3 separate regions of the Homo sapiens genome follow, and all the other regions are linked to region 1. The links come from fine-mapping of genetic effects on gene expression. A gene starts in region 1. Each other region holds a variant in brackets. All regions are shown on one strand. Distances are between the middles of the regions. Region 1 holds the start of PPP1R37 (protein phosphatase 1 regulatory subunit 37). Region 2 overlaps PPP1R37 (protein phosphatase 1 regulatory subunit 37). Region 3 overlaps PPP1R37 (protein phosphatase 1 regulatory subunit 37).

What was found. PIP is the estimated chance that this variant, and not a neighbour inherited with it, causes the effect.
Region 2: its variant is fine-mapped to the expression of PPP1R37 in whole blood (INTERVAL, PIP above 0.99).
Region 3: its variant is fine-mapped to the expression of PPP1R37 in whole blood (INTERVAL, PIP 0.96).

The regions. Positions count from the first base shown.
Region 1 is chr19:45,090,079-45,096,223 of GRCh38, reverse strand. PPP1R37 (protein phosphatase 1 regulatory subunit 37) reads right to left here and starts at 3,045. Exons shown (of 13, transcript NM_019121.2): 1 at 2,697-3,045. The coding sequence starts at 2,898. It overlaps GEMIN7 (gem nuclear organelle associated protein 7), which reads right to left. Exons shown (of 3, transcript NM_024707.3): 3 at 4,706-6,117. The coding sequence starts at 6,109. The coding sequence ends at 5,714. It overlaps GEMIN7-AS1 (GEMIN7 antisense RNA 1), which reads left to right and starts at 5,833. Exons shown (of 2, transcript NR_134887.1): 1 at 5,833-6,145. RefSeq lists silencers at 2,763-2,972, 4,490-4,674 and enhancers at 3,393-3,442, 4,783-4,832, 4,443-5,437, 5,438-6,145.
Region 2 is chr19:45,113,743-45,120,036 of GRCh38, reverse strand. The region is part of intron 1 of PPP1R37 (protein phosphatase 1 regulatory subunit 37); the gene reads right to left. Among named protein-coding and RNA genes, the nearest start is that of PPP1R37, 24 kb to the right of the region's middle. RefSeq lists enhancers at 793-842, 1,023-1,072, 2,613-2,772, 2,951-3,606. The variant C/T (reference allele first, on the strand shown) is at 3,789.
Region 3 is chr19:45,146,154-45,152,447 of GRCh38, reverse strand. It overlaps PPP1R37 (protein phosphatase 1 regulatory subunit 37), which reads right to left. Exons shown (of 13, transcript NM_019121.2): 12 at 5,968-6,058; 13 at 5,163-5,877. The coding sequence ends at 5,976. NKPD1 (NTPase KAP family P-loop domain containing 1) reads left to right here. Exons shown (of 5, transcript NM_198478.4): 5 at 1-2,704. The coding sequence ends at 510. Among named protein-coding and RNA genes, the nearest start is that of NKPD1, 12 kb to the left of the region's middle. The variant A/T (reference allele first, on the strand shown) is at 3,180.

The sequences.
Region 1 (6,145 bases):
CTCCCCTCTCCTGGAAGCCTCTGAAGCAGCCACATCCAGGCCCCACCCCATGCATGAACTCCTCCACACCAGCCCAAGATGACCAACACTGTCTTAATAACAATGACTGCCATCGAGAACACTCACCCTGGCCAATTCCTTTCCATATGTGACTTCATCCAGTCCTCTCCTAAATTCCGTGGCAAGAGTATTGCCACCTACTTCACAGATGGGAAGACTGAGGCTCAGGAGTTAGGTAACCAGCCCGAGGTCTCAAAGGATCTGACCTGGAGCCTCTGCTCTTGAAACACCCTGCTCTGCCTCTCCAGGTCTTTCCCCTTCCTGCTCTGGACTGGATATCACGCAATAGCCAGGGGGCATTCTGACTGTGCCCGGGTCCCAAACTAACCACCTATCCCTGGGGCCTAGAGCCCAAGGACTTGGCTGGCTCCTAGTGCCAAAACTCTTTTTTTTTTTTTTTTTTTTAAGACCGGGTCTCTGTCACCCAAGCTGGAGTTCAGTGGCGCAATCACAGTTCACTGCACTATCGACCTCCTGGGCTCAAATGATCCTCCCACTTCAGCCTCCTGAGTTGCTGGGACTACAGGCGTGCACCACCACACCTGGCTAATTTTCGTATATTTTGCAGAGACGCGGTTTCACCTTGTTGCCCAAGCTGGTCTTGAACTCCTGGGCTCAGGTGATCTGCCCACCTTGGCCTGACAAAGTGCTGGGGTTGCAGGCATGAACCATGGCGTCCGGCCCAAAAGTCTTAATTTAACCACTGCCTCTTTAAGAATAACTAGCCAGCCGGGCACGGTGGCTCATGCCGGTAATCCCAGCACTTTGGAAGGCTTAAGTGGGCAGATCACCTGAGGTCGGGAGTTCGAGACCAGCCTGGCCAACATGGTGAAACCCCCAACTCTACTAAAAATACAAACATTTTTAGCCAGGTGTGATGACAGGTGCCTGTAATCCCAGATACTGAGGAGGCTGAGGCAGGAGAATTGGCCTGGGCGACAGAGGGAGACTCCGTCTAAAAAATTATAATAAGTAGCCAAACTGTCATTCATGATGGACTCCCTGTGTGTTCAGTTTCCAGTTACCATGTTTCCCACCCTCACATCAAAGCCACCAATTCCTCCATTGTCCACAGACTGGCAATAGTTTCTCCCCTTGCCCAGGGCCGGCAGATCAGCTTCTACAGAACCACGGCCACCACAGCCAGTCTGATCCCTCACTTCATGGGCTCCACCCCAGGAGAACTGACAGACTTCTCCAGCACAAAATGGACTCAACACTGCCCTGCATGTCCCAAGCGACTTTCCACTTTCCCAGCCCTATGGCTCCAACACACTCCTTTCAGCTCCAACACTGACCTGACCCTCTCCAGTGCGCTGGCCCTCTCTCCCAACACTTCAAGTAGCCAACTTTTTCATCTCTCTCACCTGCTACTGGCCAGCAACTCCAATTTCTGACTTGATAACATCCCCCAATTCTTTTTTTTTTTTTCTTTGAGCCGGAGTTTTGCTCTTGTCACCCAGGCTGGAGTACAATGTCGTGATCTTAGCTCACTGCAACCTCCACCTCCCGGGTTCAAACGATTCTCCCTGCCTCAGCCTCTTGAGTAGATGGGATTACAGGTGTGCACCACTATGCCCGGCCAATTTCTGTATTTTTAGTAGAGACGGGGTTTCCCCATGTTGGCCAGGCTGGTTTTAAACTCCTGACCTCAGGTGATCCACCCACCTTGGCCTCCCAAAGTGCTGGGATTACACGCCTGAGCCAATGCACCCGGCCATCCCCCAATTCTTTCTCAGGAAGGAACAAGAGGACCCTTCCGTAGCCATGTCCCAAACATCCTCTGCTCCTGAATGACTGACAGCCTTCCTTCTGCTTCTCTTTTTTTTGGAGGAGGAGGCGGCGGTAGGCGTTGGCTTTTCTTCTTAATACCACATTGCAGCAGGCGGCGGTGGCTCACACCTGTAATCCCAACACTCTGGGAGGCCAAGGAGGGAGGACAGCTTGAACCCAGAAGTCCGAGACCAGCCTGGGCAATGTAGTGAGACCTTGTCTCAATAAAAAAGAAAACATAAAAACCACACTGCCTCTTTCTCCCTCACCCAACCACAAATTGACCACCACCTCTGCTCCTCTTCTGGGACCTTATCTTGACTCCTTTTTACCAAGTCCTCTATAGCCACAGTCCAAGTTTATAGTCTCCCTCTTTCCAGCCAAGAAAGTGGCCAACACGACCACTCCTTGCCCCAAGGCTTGCAGACCAGCAACTTAACCTCTTTTTACCCCCATAGACCCATCAAACTCTTTCAACTGCCCTTTCAGGCCCAGTGTTGACCCGCTCCTCCTCTCAACTGCTCCTTCTCTCCTTCTCTGGTGGAACTACGAACGCAAAGGCTGCCACACTCTACATCTGACAAAACACCAAACTTTCTTTAATTGCTCATCGTTTTAAACCCTAAAACGATCACCATCTTTGTCTCGGGTGGGTGGGGTGCGGCAGAAACCAGATACTTTTCACCTTCCCAACTCCATAGCCACCCCCTTTCTAACAGACTACGGTTCTAAACTGACGACTGTCCCCTTATTCACCATTAGGTGCAATCTATTGAACGCCACCTCGAGCCGGGCCCTGCACCGATCCCTCCCGACTCCCGGGTCCCTCTCGAGCCCGCCCCCGCTTCACCCGCGGTAGCTACCATGTCTCCAGGGGTCTTTGGGCTCCACTGCTCCAGACACGATATCCTCGTCGGACGGGAATGTGACGCGCTTGGCTGCAGCCTTGAGGCGCCCATCGGCGGGGGGCGACGCGGGGCTGGGAGACCCGGCCTCAGCTGGGGCCTCTTCAATGTCGCCGTCCGCGCCCGGCACGGGCGGCGCCTCCTGCGGCGCGATCTCCATAGCCGCCGCCGCCTCCTCACGGGGGCCCCGGGGACATGCCCCGGGCCCCGGATTTGTCTCTCCGGGTCCGCCCGCCGTCCCGGGGCATGGGCTCCGCCGCCGCTTCAGGCGCCGCCTCCGTCCGCTCTCCTAGTGGTCGTAGTCGTCGCCGCCGGGAGCCCAAGCGCGCCTCCGCCGAGCCCCGCGCGCGCCTGCCCGTTCGCAGTCACACTTTCGCTCGAGGCTGGCGAGCCCGCCGCTTACTATAAGAAGCAGAAAATCGATTTCAGCGACTTGCACGTAGAGTTGTCCCGCGGGTGACATGAAGAGAGAAACAAAGGGCAGGAAGGGCCACGGAAAAAAGAAACGTGAGCAGCGAATCTGCAGAGCCGGAACTGCAGACTATGAGGGGCGGGGCGAAGTAGACGCCGTCTCCAAGAGCAGCGCGCAAGCGCGAAGCTGAGCCCACGCCTTCCTGCCGGAGTCCAAATAACGAATATTCAGCTCCCGCACATTCGTCAAGAGCCCAGGGAATGGAGTGCATAGAACTGAAAACACCTGGCGGGGCGCGGCGGCACACGCCTATAATCCCAGCACTTTGGAAGGCTGAGGCGGGAAGATCGCTTGAGTCCAGGAGTTCGAGACCAGCCTGGGCAACATAGCAAGGCCCCGTCTTTACAAAAAATTTAAAAATTAGCAGGGTCTGGTTACAGGAGCCTGTAGTTCCAGCTACTTGGGAGGTGGGAAGATCGCTTGAGCCCGGTAGGTTGAGGCTGCACTGAGCTATGATCGCGCCCCTGCACTCCGACCTGGTAGACAGAGCCAGACCCTGTCTCAACGAAAGGAAAGAAATGGGCCGGGCGCGGTGGCTCACGCCTGTAATCCCAGCACTTTGGAAGGCCGACACGGGCGGATCACGAGGTTAGGAGATCGAGACCATCCTGGCTAACACGGTGAAACCCCGTCTCTACTAAAAATACAAAAAATTAGCCGGGCGTGGTGGCGGGCGCCTGTAGTCCCAGCTACTCGGGAGCCTGAGGCACGAGAATGGTGTGAACCCGGGAGGCGGAGCTTTTAGTGAGCCGAGATCGTGCCACTGCACTCCAGCCTGGGCGACAGAGCAAGACTCCGTTCCCCCCCCCCCAAAAAAAACAAAGGAAATAAATGAAAACATTGAGGCTAGACTAACTGATGAAGAGTGGTAACGGCATGAAGAAGTCGAAAAGAAAGGCGGATAGGAGCTGCATTCAATATATGAGTGCAGTTGATGGATGCTGACAGGGATACTCTGGAGACGAAGTCTCGGCCCCTTCGCTAGTCTCTAGTCCTCCATTTGCTCGCTGCAGTTACATCAACAGCTCTCTGTATCGGGGTAGAGTTGCATAAAATACAACTTAAATTACAATGCTAAAATAAATATGAGCCCATGAGCGGTATCATAGGCCTGATTTTAAAAAACAAAACCTAGGAGAAGGTAGAAATTCCAAAGGCGAGAGACGAATCTGCCAACCTAAATCCTGGGTGACAAGGCTGGTGGATCACCGAGGCAAGAAAGAACCAGCGTGAGCTCAAGCCACACCCCTAGGCTCAGACCCAACGCTTGACATTCGCCGCCGCACTTTCGCCACGCTTGCCGAAGCGCACCCGGCTAACTAGAGGAGGCGGGGCTGAAACCATAAAAGGGAACTGGGGCGGAGCGAGCTGCGTCGTCGCCAAGGCAACTCGAGAGCTAAGTCCGGGCCTCGGCGGAGCCGGCGCTGCGAATGGACTGATGGCCGCTGAGGCTGCTCCTGGCGCGGTTCATCATCGGCCGCCGCACTTTCGCGACTGAGACGAAACGACACTCACCTTTACTTAATGGAAGGCTTCGCTTACATCCTGAACTTAAAGGAACTACAGAAAGGGACAGAAACTGCTTTCTTTTTAAACAATGCGCTGAAAGGTTACTAGTGATAGGAGGCTTAGTGAAGCGCGTGATGTGAACGGCCACGCTGCAAGGCTGGAGAGAAAAGAGGAGGGAGTGAAGTTGCACCCTGATCGCGAATCCTCGGCCTTTTATCAGGGGCGCCGCCACTCGGGGTCCGACCATTCGCCTCCAACGAGGGGACAGCGAATCTGCTGTCGTGTGCAGTCCACAGCAACCACAGGTGGGGCAACAGGAGGAGCGCTTGGGCACGACCACGTGACCCAGCACGAGCCACCGCCCGCCCCAAAATGAAATCAAATCCTAATCTCCCAATCCCGGCATGCCGGTCACTCCAGCCTTTCCAGGAGACTTGCGGCCGTGCAGCCCCTACACCTTTATCTGGACTCCTGTCGTACTTGGCCCAGCTCCACTGGATTCAGCCCTTGGATAACCACCCTACCAGCCCCTAAAGATGACTCCATCCCCGTCGGTATAGTTAATTAAAGAAAAACAGGAGTCGAATTTTCCTGGGGTAACTGGTTCTTTAGCAGGAGGGGAGCACTGGGGAGTATCTTCAGGGTGGCTGGACTTTGCAGCCTCTTTAATAACTTCCCCCTGTGCAGGTTGTATCCTTTATCACCCCACCCCGATGCCCCGGTCTTCAGGAAATGGCAGCAGGCCCATATTTCTGTAGGGTTCAGAGTTCTGTGAGGTAGAGCATTCCTTCCAATGGGATCTTAGAATTCCTAGAGTTGCAGAATTTTACTGACTAGACCCAGGAGGTCTCAGGAGTCCAGACTTGCTTAAAGCTTGGCTCAAAATTCCAAGGGAGCTCATAACTCCATGGGGCCCAGAGTTCCTGGCTCGGGAACATTGGGAGGCCTGGGATACAGTGCCTTAGCCTCAAGCAGAAAAGTGAACACAATATCTTTATGGCTTGAAGGTATATGAAATAATGTCACTACATCGGAGCAGCGCCTCTGCTTGCACACCTATGGGAGTCTGCAGCTGTGACACGTAGAAGTTGGCCACATCCAGGTCGGTGGCTCCAAAGTGGGCGGCCACACGCACACCCTCGTGCAACGTGAAGCTCACCTGATGACCCACCATGGCCAGCAGGCTGCGGAGGTAACGCTCCCGAAGGGCGGCTCGTGCCCGCTGCTCCTGGGATTCCAGGGATTCTTGAGCTATGGGACACTCCTGGATTTCAGGAACCTCTGGCCTCAAGGGGGCTCTGCGTCCATCAGGGGCAAAGCCACGGCTGAAGCCATCAGGGCCCCGGGGCAGCCGGAGCACAGGCACGGGAATGTTCACTGGAGTTTGCATTGTCTTGGCTGTTGAGTGAAGAAAAAGAGCAGGAAG
Region 2 (6,294 bases), 24 kb before region 1:
CAAAAAAAAAAAAAAAAAAAAAGAAGGGGAAAATAAAAAATCTGTGCTCCTCATTTAAAAGCAAATGAACACAGAGATGGAGTAGCCAGTGAAGCAGCCGGGAACCAGGAACAAAGAGGGACCCCAGGCCCTTCTCCGGGCTTCCTGGCAGCCCCTAAAGCCCCTCCTGGGGCGGCGGCCTCCTTCAAACAGCAAGGTTGTGCGGGGTGCTGGGGGGTGGAGCTGGCTCTTCTCTGAGCACCACACCCACCACCTCTCATGTGTGCAGAGCCACAAGAGACACAGCCCTACCTGGCCACTTTCCCAGTGGTCTGATCCTGGGCCTGGGGCAGATGACAGTGGAGGACAGAGGGTGCCGGCTTGGGGCTGAGTGTTCCCACTGTTTCACAAGCAATGTATAGGTAAAATGATAGCTATCTTAGAGCTGCTGCAAAATAATGCAGGTGAGAGTGGCATGGAGATAGGCAGGAACAGATTGGCCATGTAGTCATCAATTCTGAAGCCAGAAAGTGGGTCGGTCCATCAGACTCATTATACTCCTACTTTCTTGTGTCTGAAAATGTCCATCAAAACACAGTTAAACGGGCCAGGCACCGTGGCTCATGCCTGTGATCCCAGCACTTTGGGAGGCCAAGGTGGGCAGATCACCTGAGGTCAGGAGTTCGACACCAGTCGGGCCAACAGGGCAAAACCCCATCTCTACAAAATACAAAAATTAGCCAGGTATGGTGACACATGCCTGTAATCCCAGCTACTCAGGAGGCTGAGGCAGGAGAATCGCTTGAACCTGGGAAGCAGAGGCTGCAGTGAGCTGAGATCGTGTCACTGCACTCCAGCCTGGGTGACAGAGAGCAAGACTCTGTCTCAAAAAAAAAAAAAAATTAGACGGGTGTTGTGGCACGTGCCTGTAATCCCAGCTACTCGGGAGGCTGGGGCAGGAGAATCGCTTGAACCCAGGAGGTGGAAGCTGCAGTGAGTGAGATCACACCACTGCACTCCAGCATGAGTGACAGAGAATGAGACTCCGTCTCAAAAACCAAAAAACAAAACAAAAAGTTAAATGAGAAAAAAAAAAAAGCAGCAGCTGCTCAGAGGCGGTGGCCCACAAGGAACCCAGAGGCGGCAGGTGGGCCGGGAGGGAGGTCTGGCACCAAGGCCAGTCTCTCACGACAGAATTAGTTATAAAGCCCAGCCCGGCTGTGGAGGCAGCCACCTGGGTGGCTCCCTGGGGCCCGGCCAGCAGGTGCTCAGTGAACGTGGGCTAAAGGAAGGAAGGAACTTGGGCCTCATGCCCACCCCTGAGGGACAGGACAGCCAGATGGAGGGTTGTCAAAGGAGAACTCTGAGGTACACGGTGAGGGGTGGCAGGAAGCTGGGGCTCCTGGCACAAGTCCGTAACTGTGGTGTCCCAACGTTCGGCAGGGAGTCCACTGACAGCTGTCATTTACTACGCAGTTATCTCAGGCAAGCCCTTTATGTACCCGAGCTCCCTGAAACCTTAGCACATCCCTGGGAAGGGGATATGGCCGGGACCCCCAACCCAAGACAAAGAAGAGGAGGGTCAGAAAGGTCACATCCCTGAGTGACCACACAGACCACACACTGTGGGGATCCTCCTCTTTCACTGCTGAGCCACTATGACCTTCAGAGTCAGCCTCCTAAATGAGAGCCCAAAGTCAGCTCCGTGGCCACACACTTGCCTTCCAGGAACAACATCCTCAGATGCCCTGTGACACAGGTCACAGGCCCCGGGCTTCCCACCCACTCTGCACTGGGGAACCCTCTCCCCCTGCTAAACTGGGAGCTCCCCTGGGCACTCATGGGGACAGCGGCTGGGTGCCGGGAGGCCTGGACATAGAATAGGGCAGTGACACAGGCCAGCCTGAGGGGAGGGCTGCAGCTACCTCTGTAGGCAGTTGGAAGCCCAGGCGGGGACTTCTGGCTGCTGAGCCTGTTCGGAAAAACCTCTGCCTGTGACTCCTTGGGAAAAATGAAGGGACGCTGGTGGTGAGTTCTTCTTCCCAGTGAACAACCGCTGGGCACCTCCACCCCCAACAGCCTCTCAGTAACCCAGAGGCCTGAGAAACGCGGATCACGCGGGGGCTGGAGCTGTAAGGCTGAGGAGGACACCTTCCCCAGCAGCCTCGGGCTCATCAGCTGAGCCACTGAGTCAACAATGCCAAGGACGAGCACTGGCTTACGGAGCCAGCCTCCTGCCAGGTGCTACTCTAAGACTAACTCTGCGGCCTCATTCTTGCAGCCCGGTCTACCAGCTGCCCTAAGCCTTTGCTCGGGTAGCCCCACTGGCCTGTCCCTGCCTTGGGTGGGATGGCTGGGACAATCTCCAGGCTAGGTTTCCCACCACCAGTCAGCGCTTCAGAACTGCATGCCCATGGTAGGCACACAGAAGACCTGGTGGGGACCTGCAGGGAGACTCCCTGAGATCACCTCCCACCGTAGAAGGAAAACCCACGTCCTGTGCAGTCCCCGCCATTCAGACCCAAAGCAGGCGCACAATTAGCTTAGGAGACCGTGCAGGAGCGGGCTGGTTGCTGCCACAGGCTTTCACTCGGCACCACCTGTCCCTGCACTGAGAGTAAAACCTCAACTCCTCAGCCCAGGACAAGGCCCCCTGATGCCAGCACTCCACCGGGGCTCACCCTCGGCTCGCCCACGCCTCCTCAGCCACTCTACAGGCTTTGTGGTTTGTTCCCGCCTCCGGGTCTGCAACTGCTCTTCCCTCCCTCTGACAGCTTCCCTCCCCTCCTGCAGCTTAAGCCGCAGCTGACTTGCCATTCAGATCTCAACTCGAAAGTCACCTCCTGGCCAGGCGCAATGGCTCACACCTGTAATCCCAGCACTTTGGGAGGCTGAGGCGGGTGCATCACTTGAGGTCAGGAGTTCGAGACCAGCCTGACCAATATGGTGAAACCCCATCTCTACTAAAAATACAAAAATTAGCCGGGTGTGGTGACACGTGCCTGTAGTCCCAGATACTTGGGAGGCTGAGACAGGAGAATCGCTTGAGCTGGGAGATGGAGGCTGCAGTGAGCCAAGATCGTGCCACTGCACTCCAGCCTGGGCAAAAAGAGCGAAACTCTGTCTCAAAAAAAAAAAAAAAAAAAGTCACCTCCTCTGAGAAGCCTCTCCTGACCCCTTTCTGTAGCAGCACCCCCATCCCCATCCCCCACACCACACCCAGACAACACTCTGCCTCCTCACTGGACACGTCCCAATCTCTAAGGATCTACTTGCTCGTTTTCTGTCCTAGACCAAGGGCTCCCTGAGTCTAGGGACGTCACTGTGGTGTCTGTCGCTGTGAGTCTATGAATGAACGAATGCACCGACTCACTCTGGGAAATGAAGACAACGTCCACCCTTCCCTTCTCCCCAGAGAACCACGGGCTGGAGGGAAGGGAGCCCGCAATGCGTCCTGGAAAGTTAGCCTGCTCAGGGGAGGCTGGGATGGCCGGTCCTTCCCTCTCAGACCCCCGTGCCCTCCTCAGGCCTGCTGAGAGGCCGTGAGTCCTGCAGTTTCCTGGGTGAGAGGGGCTCTTCTCTGCCCTTCCCGGCAGGGAGGCACCACCATTCAGCCAGTGGGTACCGTGGCCACATGCTGCAGGATGGCCAGCTCCAGGGGGCGGGCTAGGCTTACATAGCCAACAAGGAGCCAGGCCTCCAGACCCCAGGCCTCAGGCAGGGATGTGGGCAAGGCCTGCCCACTCCAGTGAAGGGCGCAGATGGCAGGTGCCACAGGCCTGCCTTCCCTTCCCCTCGTCCTGACCTTC[C/T]CAACTGCCTGCCGCAGCTGAAGATCCTGTTACAGAAACAGATGCGGTCAGAACACACTCATGGCTTTCCAAGTCTCTTGGGACGGAAGGAACAAGGCAGATTGGGCGCACCTTCCCTCATGCCACAGCGCCTCACACACAGCAGCTGCATGTAAGGTCAATGGCAGGCTTGGATGAAAGCGGAAGTCAAGGCCTTAATCCCTGGGTCCCCAGTCAAGCAGTGTGCTAAGCACCCGAGTCCCCCCATGTGACACACAACTTTTTTTTTTTTTTTGAGACAGAGTCTCACTCTTGTCACCCAGGCTGGAGTGCAGTGGCACAATCTCAGCTCACTGCAACTTCCGCTTCCTGGGTTCACGCAATTCTCCTCCCTCAGCCTCCCGAGTAGGTGGGATTATAGGCACCCGCCACCACACCAGGCTAATTTTGTATTTTTAGCAGAGACGGGGTTTCACCATGTTGGCCAGGCTGGTCTCGAACTCCGGACCTCAGATGATCCACCCGCCTCGGCCTCCCAAAGTGCTGGGATTATAGATGTGAGCCACTGCGCCTGGCCGCAACTTTTAACGATAAATAATTTTTACGAGCAATGGCAAGCACTTACATATACTACCTCATTTACTGTCTTCAACAACCCTAAGATAGGTAGGGTTTATTATCCCCATTTCAAATGGGGAAACTGAGGCCACAGAATCAGTAAAAGTCAGAGCCGGGATTCGAGCCTGAGCAGTCTATGGCTCCACAATCCTCACTCTTAGCCAAACCCTTGACCTTTCTGTTCATGCCACGGTTTGGGGTACAGCTATCCCTCCCCCATCCTTTCCAAAGGAGGAAACTGAGGCGCAGGGAGATGGAGCATGTGCCAAGGACACACAGCACAGGTAGGCCTGACTTCAAAGCCCACTTCATCTGGTTGGTGGACCCCATGCCTCACCCAAGAGTTTAAGGCGTTCAATATCCTGACCCAAGCCAGGTACCTACCCACCAGCCTCGCCACTGTCTCCTCTGTTCCAGCCTTGGTTTATTTCCTTCCAGACCCTTCTCTCAATCTGCAGTGGTGCTGTCTGCTGGTTGGCCAACTTGTTTCCCACACTTCCCTCTCTCTGGACAATAAGCCTGGAAGGCAGGGCCGGGCTTGCCTTGCCACTGCTGTGTCCCCAGTACAGGACTGGGCACTGAGCTCAATACTCGCTGAATGCATGCCTGAACCACTAAGAAAACACAGCCAATCCTGTGGTGGAGACTAATAACACTCTCAGAACACAAGGGCCCAAGACTGTCCCCTAGCCCAGGGCTTTCTGCTGGGATGTGTAGGGGGAGTTAGGGGGTTCCTTTATGGCCTCCATAAGCCCCCCAGCTGGAAGGAGCTTCCCAAAGGGATGTACACATCTGAGGACACTAGTGACTTTCTGCCTTGTGATGTGAATGCACCTTCCGAAAATTTAATTTTTTATATTTTGTGGAGATGGGGGGGGGGGTCTCACTTGTTGCCCAGGGTGGTCTTGAACTCCTGGCCTCAAGTGATCCTCCTGCCTCGGCCTCCCAAAGTGCTGGAATTATAGGTGTGAGCCACTATGCCCAGCCTGTGAATGCACCTTCTAAACACATGTAACAGCAACCTAGTGAGGGCATGGCCTTTGCAGTCAGACCTTGTATTTGGGGGTGCCTATTTGGGGTGTCTGCAGAGCCTCCTCTAAAAACTGCCCTCCACCCCAACAAGCGTGGGCTGGCCCTCTATCGCCCATTTGACAGGGAGGATGTGGGGTCCTAGCTAAGCCTGCATGAGCTGCCCGGGTCAGGGGGCTGGACTGGGTGGTCCTGTTCCAGACACCAGGAGGGCTGGGCTTGTGTGGCCCATGGCCAGCCTAGTGGAAGACGTTCTGAAGAGAGAAAGAGGAACAAGGAGTGCATGTGTTCCAGAGAGCAGGTGGCAGACCTGGTTCCTGCCAGCTTTCAGGACCCCTGGGAACAGGCAAAGCCTGGCCTCCATCCAATGAACACCCTCATTCACCTCCTGTGGCCCCAGGTGGATTCTGGCCCTGATAACTCAACAGACCCCAGTTGACACAGGCAATGGCTCTCGACCCTTCATGGCTGAGTCTCCTCATCTGCAAAATGGAGCCAATGAGACTGAGACTGACACACAAAGACTTCTAAAAGCAGCCACTGAACTCTCTTGTGTAAAGCGTCTAGTGTGGGGCTGGCGCGTGGCAAACGGAAGCCCCTGTTATTGCAGAGGCCAACGCCTCAGCAGCCCCCGGGAGAGTGGATGCTGGATGAGCAAAGAGCAAGCAGAGCCACCAGCTCCAGCCAGGGGCCCCCAGTCACCACCCCACCTGCTGCCTCCACCTGCCCCCGGGCTCTGAAACGCTGACCACACCCACTCCTGTCTGCCCTGAGACAAATATTTACCCAGGGCTGGGCACCTGATGGTGCCGAAGTGAAGACCTGGGGATAAATAATCACCAAGAGTGGTGAGGGGGCGGAGAGAACTCTCTGAGTGAGC
Region 3 (6,294 bases), 56 kb before region 1:
CCGTGCCGCCTGAGCTGGGCGCTGCAGTGCCTGGAGGACCGGCAGCAGACCGGGGGCGCGCCCGAGGGCCGCGCGCGCCTCTGGGACGTTTTCCGCGACAACAGCCGCGAGCTGCACACCATGACCAAGGCGTTGCAGAACGTGCTCGACCTGGACGGCGACCCCGAGCTCTTCGAGCGCTTCCTGGGCGCCGACTTCCCCTTCACCGTGGCCGAGGCGCAGAGCCTGCTGCGCTGCACGGTCAACCTGGACCACTCCATCCGCCGGCGCATGGGTCTCATCCGAGCCGTCAGCGCGCTCAAGCCGCCCAGCCCGCCCAAGTCCCCTACCCGCGATACCCCCCACGCTGCCCACCGGGCCAACAGCGCCTCCAGGGCGCCCCCGTCGGGCCGTGCCTCAGGGCAAGCCGGCGAAGGCCACCACACTGGGGACTTGGCCCACAGGGGCAAGCTATGGCCGGTGGCCTGTGCGCTCTTCCGTCCAGGGCAATCCAGCCCAGGTGGGCCTTAAATGGAGGACTTGGCGGGCAGCAGGAGGCAAGGGTTCCTCCATCTGCCCAGATGGGAGAATAGGGGGCTGGACTGGGGCCGCAACCCAGGGTCCGAATGAGCCCTGTGAGGCCCACACCCCCAGGTGAACCTGAGCCAGAGCCGTGGACATAGCTTCCAAGGAGTGCGGCCACAAGCCGGTGCCAGCATGAGAGCAGGCACAGAAGGACCAGTGAGGAAGTCAGGGTATACATGCAATAAATGGAGGTGTTGAGAGCCCGGAGTTGCTCTCCGCATCCTGATCTGACCAGGGACCAGGCCTGCCCCGTCCTGCCACAGGGCCTGCCCCATCCTGCTAAGCCCACTTACTCCTCTGCACCATGCTGGCCTCCTCATCTGGCATCTCTGTGGCAGGAGAGGCTGCGGGGGTGGTGGGTGAGGCTGCAGAGATGACAGGTGGATGGGCCAGGTTGACTCAGGCAACATGGAGCGCCCAGGCCTCAGGGAATCCCAGTCCTTGTCCCCATGCCCTAGCTTGCCCCTCTGTGAGTAGGGCAGGGGCTGGCATTTCTGAGGATGACCTCGGTGACCTCAGCAAGCTGCTCCACCCCTAGGGTGGCTCCATTCTCAACGTAATGGGTTAGACCTCGCTGGCACCTCAGCCAGCTGGAGTGGGTGGCACTAACCTCCCCCAGACAAATAACTGTCCACAGGGTACCTGCCTTACGAGTCACTCCAGGGCCACTGGTTAGTCACTGACACTGAAGCCACTGCATCAGCCCCCTGATGAGGACAGGGAAGTTGGGCAGAGATGGGGACATACAGGGCCCAAGCCACAGCCAGCCAGGAGGGGTTACACTAGGGCTCCCCCACTTTCCCTCTGGGCAGAGCCCTGGGCTGGGGGTGGGTGTCACTCCTCTGGGCAGTTCCTGATTCCTCACTGGTCAAATGTTCAGCCACACGCTCAGGCCCTGGGGTGCCTGGCCCAGTTCCAAGTGTGTGCCGGCAGGGGCCACAAGGGCCAACACTGAACATACCCTGGGATGAGGCTGAGGGTGTGGCTTCTGAGCCAGGGCCCTGAGGCTGGTGGAGGGGACAGCCCCCGAGGAACCTGAGAGCTCTGCAAAGGCACACACCCTCAGGCCATGGGACTGGGTCACTGACCTCACAGTTCTTTAGTTCCAAGGCTGGGCATAGCATCCAGGTCTGGCTGCAGCACCGGAGTTCTCTGGCCACAGCAATTGTCACAGGTGCATGCAGGTCAGTGGGAGCCCTCTATGATCTTCCCTGGGGCTGGGCAAGCAGAGGTGCTGTTTCCCATTCCTGGACTGACTAAGCTGGTAGGATACGCCTGGACCTCCTGGGAGCTGTTTCCCAGCAGTCAGGGAGAGCTGGCCTCAGAGGGAGAAGGATGGGGCCTCGTGACACCGTTAAGTCTGTTTCTGTAGATGTGTGGTTGGGGTCAATATATCCCTGTAGCCTCCCTTAAGCCAGTTTCAGTTGGGTTTGTTTCTTACCACCTGGAATCCAAGCTGAAAATAAATTTTCACTCCTGTTACCAGGAGTGGGGTGCTGTGAGAGATGCTAACGTGTAGACTTGGCTGGAGGTGAGGGCAGGACTGAAGCCCCCCATGCCTCAGTAAGAAGCTGCATCAGCCTGGCCAACATGGTGAAGCCCTGTCTCTAATAAAAATACAAAAAGATTAGCTGGGCATGGTGGTGCATGCCTGTAATCCCAGCTACTCAGGAGGCTGAGGTGGGAGGATCACTTGAACCCGGGAGGTGGTGGCTGGAGCCAAGATGGTGCCACTGCACTCCAGCCTGGGCGACAGAGCAAGACTCCGACTGATTAAAAAAAAAAGCCGCAGCCTCTGTTACGTGGTACAAGCTGTGGCCAAACTGTTGGTCACTGTATCTTCACGTGGAGCTGCTATGAGAACTTGCACCTGTGTAAAGCCACGGGACCGTTGTCACGAACAAAAAAGGAGCACGGCTGACCTGTGCGCCTTTCCCAGCAATGAGTCAGGGAGCAGGTTTCCCTTCTCCACTCCCTTCCCCCATCTGCCCACTTGATCCGGGATCCTTGAGGCCCTGGGGAGCAACAGAGCCCTAAGAGCTTCAAAGGGGCCTGGGTCCAGGAATAACTTGGTGAAGAGCTGCCTGCCACTCTGAACATCCACATGTGACAATAAACATCTCCTGTGTTAGGACATTGAGATCTTGCATGAAACAGACCCCCTACGTCTTCAGCAAAGGCTACCAAAACGTGACAAGCTCGGGTGACACTTGGGTGGCTGAAGGGAAGGGGAAGACAAGATGGCAAGGGGGATCCTCTCAGCCTCCAGCCCTCGATCTGGGACCCTTCAGAAAATCAGGAGCGCGGCAGGCTGGGGTGTTGTGGTAACGGCTGTGGTTTCTAGAGCTGCTCTAACACAGTCTAACAGACCACGTGCCTTTGAAGGACAAATGTATCGTCTCTCGCTTCTGGAGGCTAAAAGTTCCAGATGAAGGAGGGGCTCTCTGTGCCTGCTCCCCACTCCTGGTGCATTGCTGGCCATCTCCGCACTCCCTGGCTTGCAAAGGCATCACCCCATCCTCTGTCTTCACGTGGCAGTCTCCCTGTGCCCAAATGCCCCTTTTAATAAGGACACCAATCAGACTGCAGCAGGGCCCACCCGAGTGACCTCATTA[A/T]AATGAGTTAAAACTTGATTACCTTTGTAAAAACCCTATTTCTAAGTGAGCTCACATTCTGGGGTACTGGAGGTAAGGACTTTAAAGATCTTTTTTTGGCCAGGCGCAGTGGCTTACGCCTGTAATCCCAGCACTTCGGGAGGCCGAGGTGGGCAGATCACGAGGTCAAGAGATTGAGACCATTCTGGCCAACATGTTGAAACCCCGTCTCTACTAAAAGTACAAAAATTAGCTGGGCGTGGTGGTGCACGCCTGTACTCCCAGCTACTCGGGAGGCTGAGGCAGCAGAATTGCTTGAACCTGGGAGGCGGAGGTTGCAGTGAGCCGAGATTGCGCCACTGCACTCCAGCCTGGCAACAGAGCGAGACTCCAGCTCAATAAATAAATGAATAAATAAATAAACAAACATCTTTTTTTGTGGGAGACACAATTCAACCCCCAACAGTAAGAAAGGCCCAGTTCCTCACTCCAAGCTCAATTTAGTGAAAGCAAATCAAGGGACAGGCTGGGAAGAGGATCCCTGTCCCTCCCCTAGCATACCTCACATGGGGTGGGGAGGCAGACGGCCAGCGGGCTGGGTGAGACCCCAACACAGCTGCCTCCACAGAGGCTGAGACCATGAGCAACGGCTAATATCGACCAAGGGCCTCTGAAGATCGTTGGGGCACTGTGCTGACCCAAACCAGGCGAAGGACAGAGGTCTCTCAGTACCTTGATGCAAACACCTCACATGCCCCGGCCCCTCACCAAGACGGGCTGGATCCACAGTGGCCAGGAGGGGGCCCCTTCTTCCCTTCACCCATGGCCACATCGCACATTAGCAGAGCTGGGGACAAGCTGGCTGTGCAGGGATGGGAAGAGTGCTGCGGGCTGCTGGCGGCTGTTCTGTGTAGCTTCCCTAAGTCCCTCGCCCAAATAAGAGTCCTAGCCGTGGCTGACCTGGGGAGCAGTTAGGACACTTACAGCTGCAAGGGACCAAACAGCAAACCAGCAGTGGCTTCCTAAGGTGTTCCTCCCAGAGGCCAGGGTGGCTGGGGGCAGGGGACTCCCTGGTGTGTGCAGGAGCTGAATGACACCAGGGCTCCAGCCTGCGACTGTGGTTCTCGTGATGTCACCACAACGCCTCCATCCATGTCAGCCTCCCACACGGGAAACAAGGGGATGGGTGGCCCAGAAATGCTCGTTTAGTAATTTTTTTTTTTTTTGAGACAGGATCTCACTCTGTTGCCCAGGCTGAAGTGCAGTGGTGCAATCACACCTCACTGCAGCCTCAACCTCCTGGGTTCAAGCGATCCTCCCAACTCAGCCTCCTCAGTAGCTGGGACTACAGGCACACGCCACCACACCCAGCTAATTTTTGTATTTTCTATGGAGATGGGGTTTCACCATGTTGCCCAGGCTGGTGTCAAATTCCTGGGTTCAAGCAATCCTCCCACCTCAGCCTCCCAAAGTGCTGGGATTACAGGTGTGGGCCACCATGCCCGGCCTGCTCCCCCCTTTCCTAAAGGGAAAAACAGACCTCTCAGAAATCCGCAACAGCACCCCCATGGCCCCCCAGGCCCCTGCTGGCAAAGGGGAACAAGCCGCCCACCAGGCTCCTGCAGTGCTGGCTGGGCCCGGGGCATACTCCCACCTGCACAACACCTGGGGCTGCCAGGGACAGGCTGGGATCTGTTCCTGTTGAGCGATGGGCGACTGGGCAGAGCCACTCCATATCCAGCATCCTGAGACCCTAGACCTGAAGCCAGGAGGTATCTGGGGCCTGTCTCTCCCTGCAGAAAGGATGGGTGTAAACTCGCCTGGCTGGGAGGTGACCGTACGAGACACCAGAGCATGGATGCAGAATAGACGGGACTGTGGGGGAAGACGCAGTAATGCCTGACCAGTGCCCTGGCAGATGCTCTGTAACCAGGAGCTGTGATGGCCTCCACCCAGCCCACCCCCAGCAACCACCTCCAGGATCCGCACGAAGCAGACGTTGGGCAAAGTGAACCCAGCCCCAGTTTATTAGAAAAGGTGTGAACAGAGTTGCACCGACAGGAGTAGCCCCAGCCCTCTGCCCACCCTCACCCACACCCATGCCACTCGCCCCCAAAGGGCTGTAGTGCCTCTCAGGGCGCAGCCTCCAGTGGCCTGGACAGCAGGGTCCCGGAGTGCCGGCTGCTCCCGCCCCAGCTCCCTGATAGATTTATTGCACTTGAGAAAAAGAAAGCTCTGATCCTCTGCTCCCATCCCCCCACCCTGCCCGGCCTGCGCTGTCTGGGGCTGTTCTGTGCATCTCAACCACCACCAGCACGCACCGCCTCTCCGGCACCAGGCTGCCTGCCCGGCCCTGTGCCCGGGGCCACAGGGGACCATCCCACCACCACCCAGGACGCCTGCCCTCCGCAGGGCAAGCCTGGCCCCTCCAGAACAGGCGCCTGATGTCCTTGGAGACCTCCTCCTCCTCCTGCTCCCCCTCCTCCCATTCACCCCCAGAGTCTTCCAGTGCTGGGCTCATAAATAGAAGTGCTTGAGTCACGCGCGGAGGGCCACTCCCTGTAGCTCCTGCACCCCTTGTAGTGTTGCTGTGGGGGGAGGGGGGCCCCAGAATGGCCCCCACCCCTGGCATCCTGGGCCTCAGGAAGGCTGGGGGGAAGGTGAGCAGATTCTCATGGCTCTGGCCTCAGCTCATCGCAGACCGACCGGAAAAAGGGAACTTGGGGAGGAGAGATTGGGGGAGAGACTGTCAGAGCCAGAGGCTCTCTCAGCTCCTCCCGAGTGCTGTGGGCCCCGGGCCTGGCCTCACCTAAAGTGTCACAGTGTCTCCTGCCCGGATTCCTGACTGGCTTCCAGAAGCAGCTCCTCGAGCTCCTTCTCGTTCTTGGAGCAGCTCAGTTCTGTGTGGGAGGACGGGCCAGCACCCCCGTCAGGCGGGTGGGGCAAATACAACCTGTCCCCAGCCCGGCCCCAGCCAGACCCTCAGGGCCTGCAGAGTGCCCAGAGACCGCTGAGATGGTCAGGCTCAAGGCAGCACACCTTACATGCCCCCCCACCCCAGGAAGAGCTCCCAGGACCCAAGGGAAGCAGGGTGGAGATGAGAACTAAGCCCCACTTTGCTGGCCCCTGCGAGAAC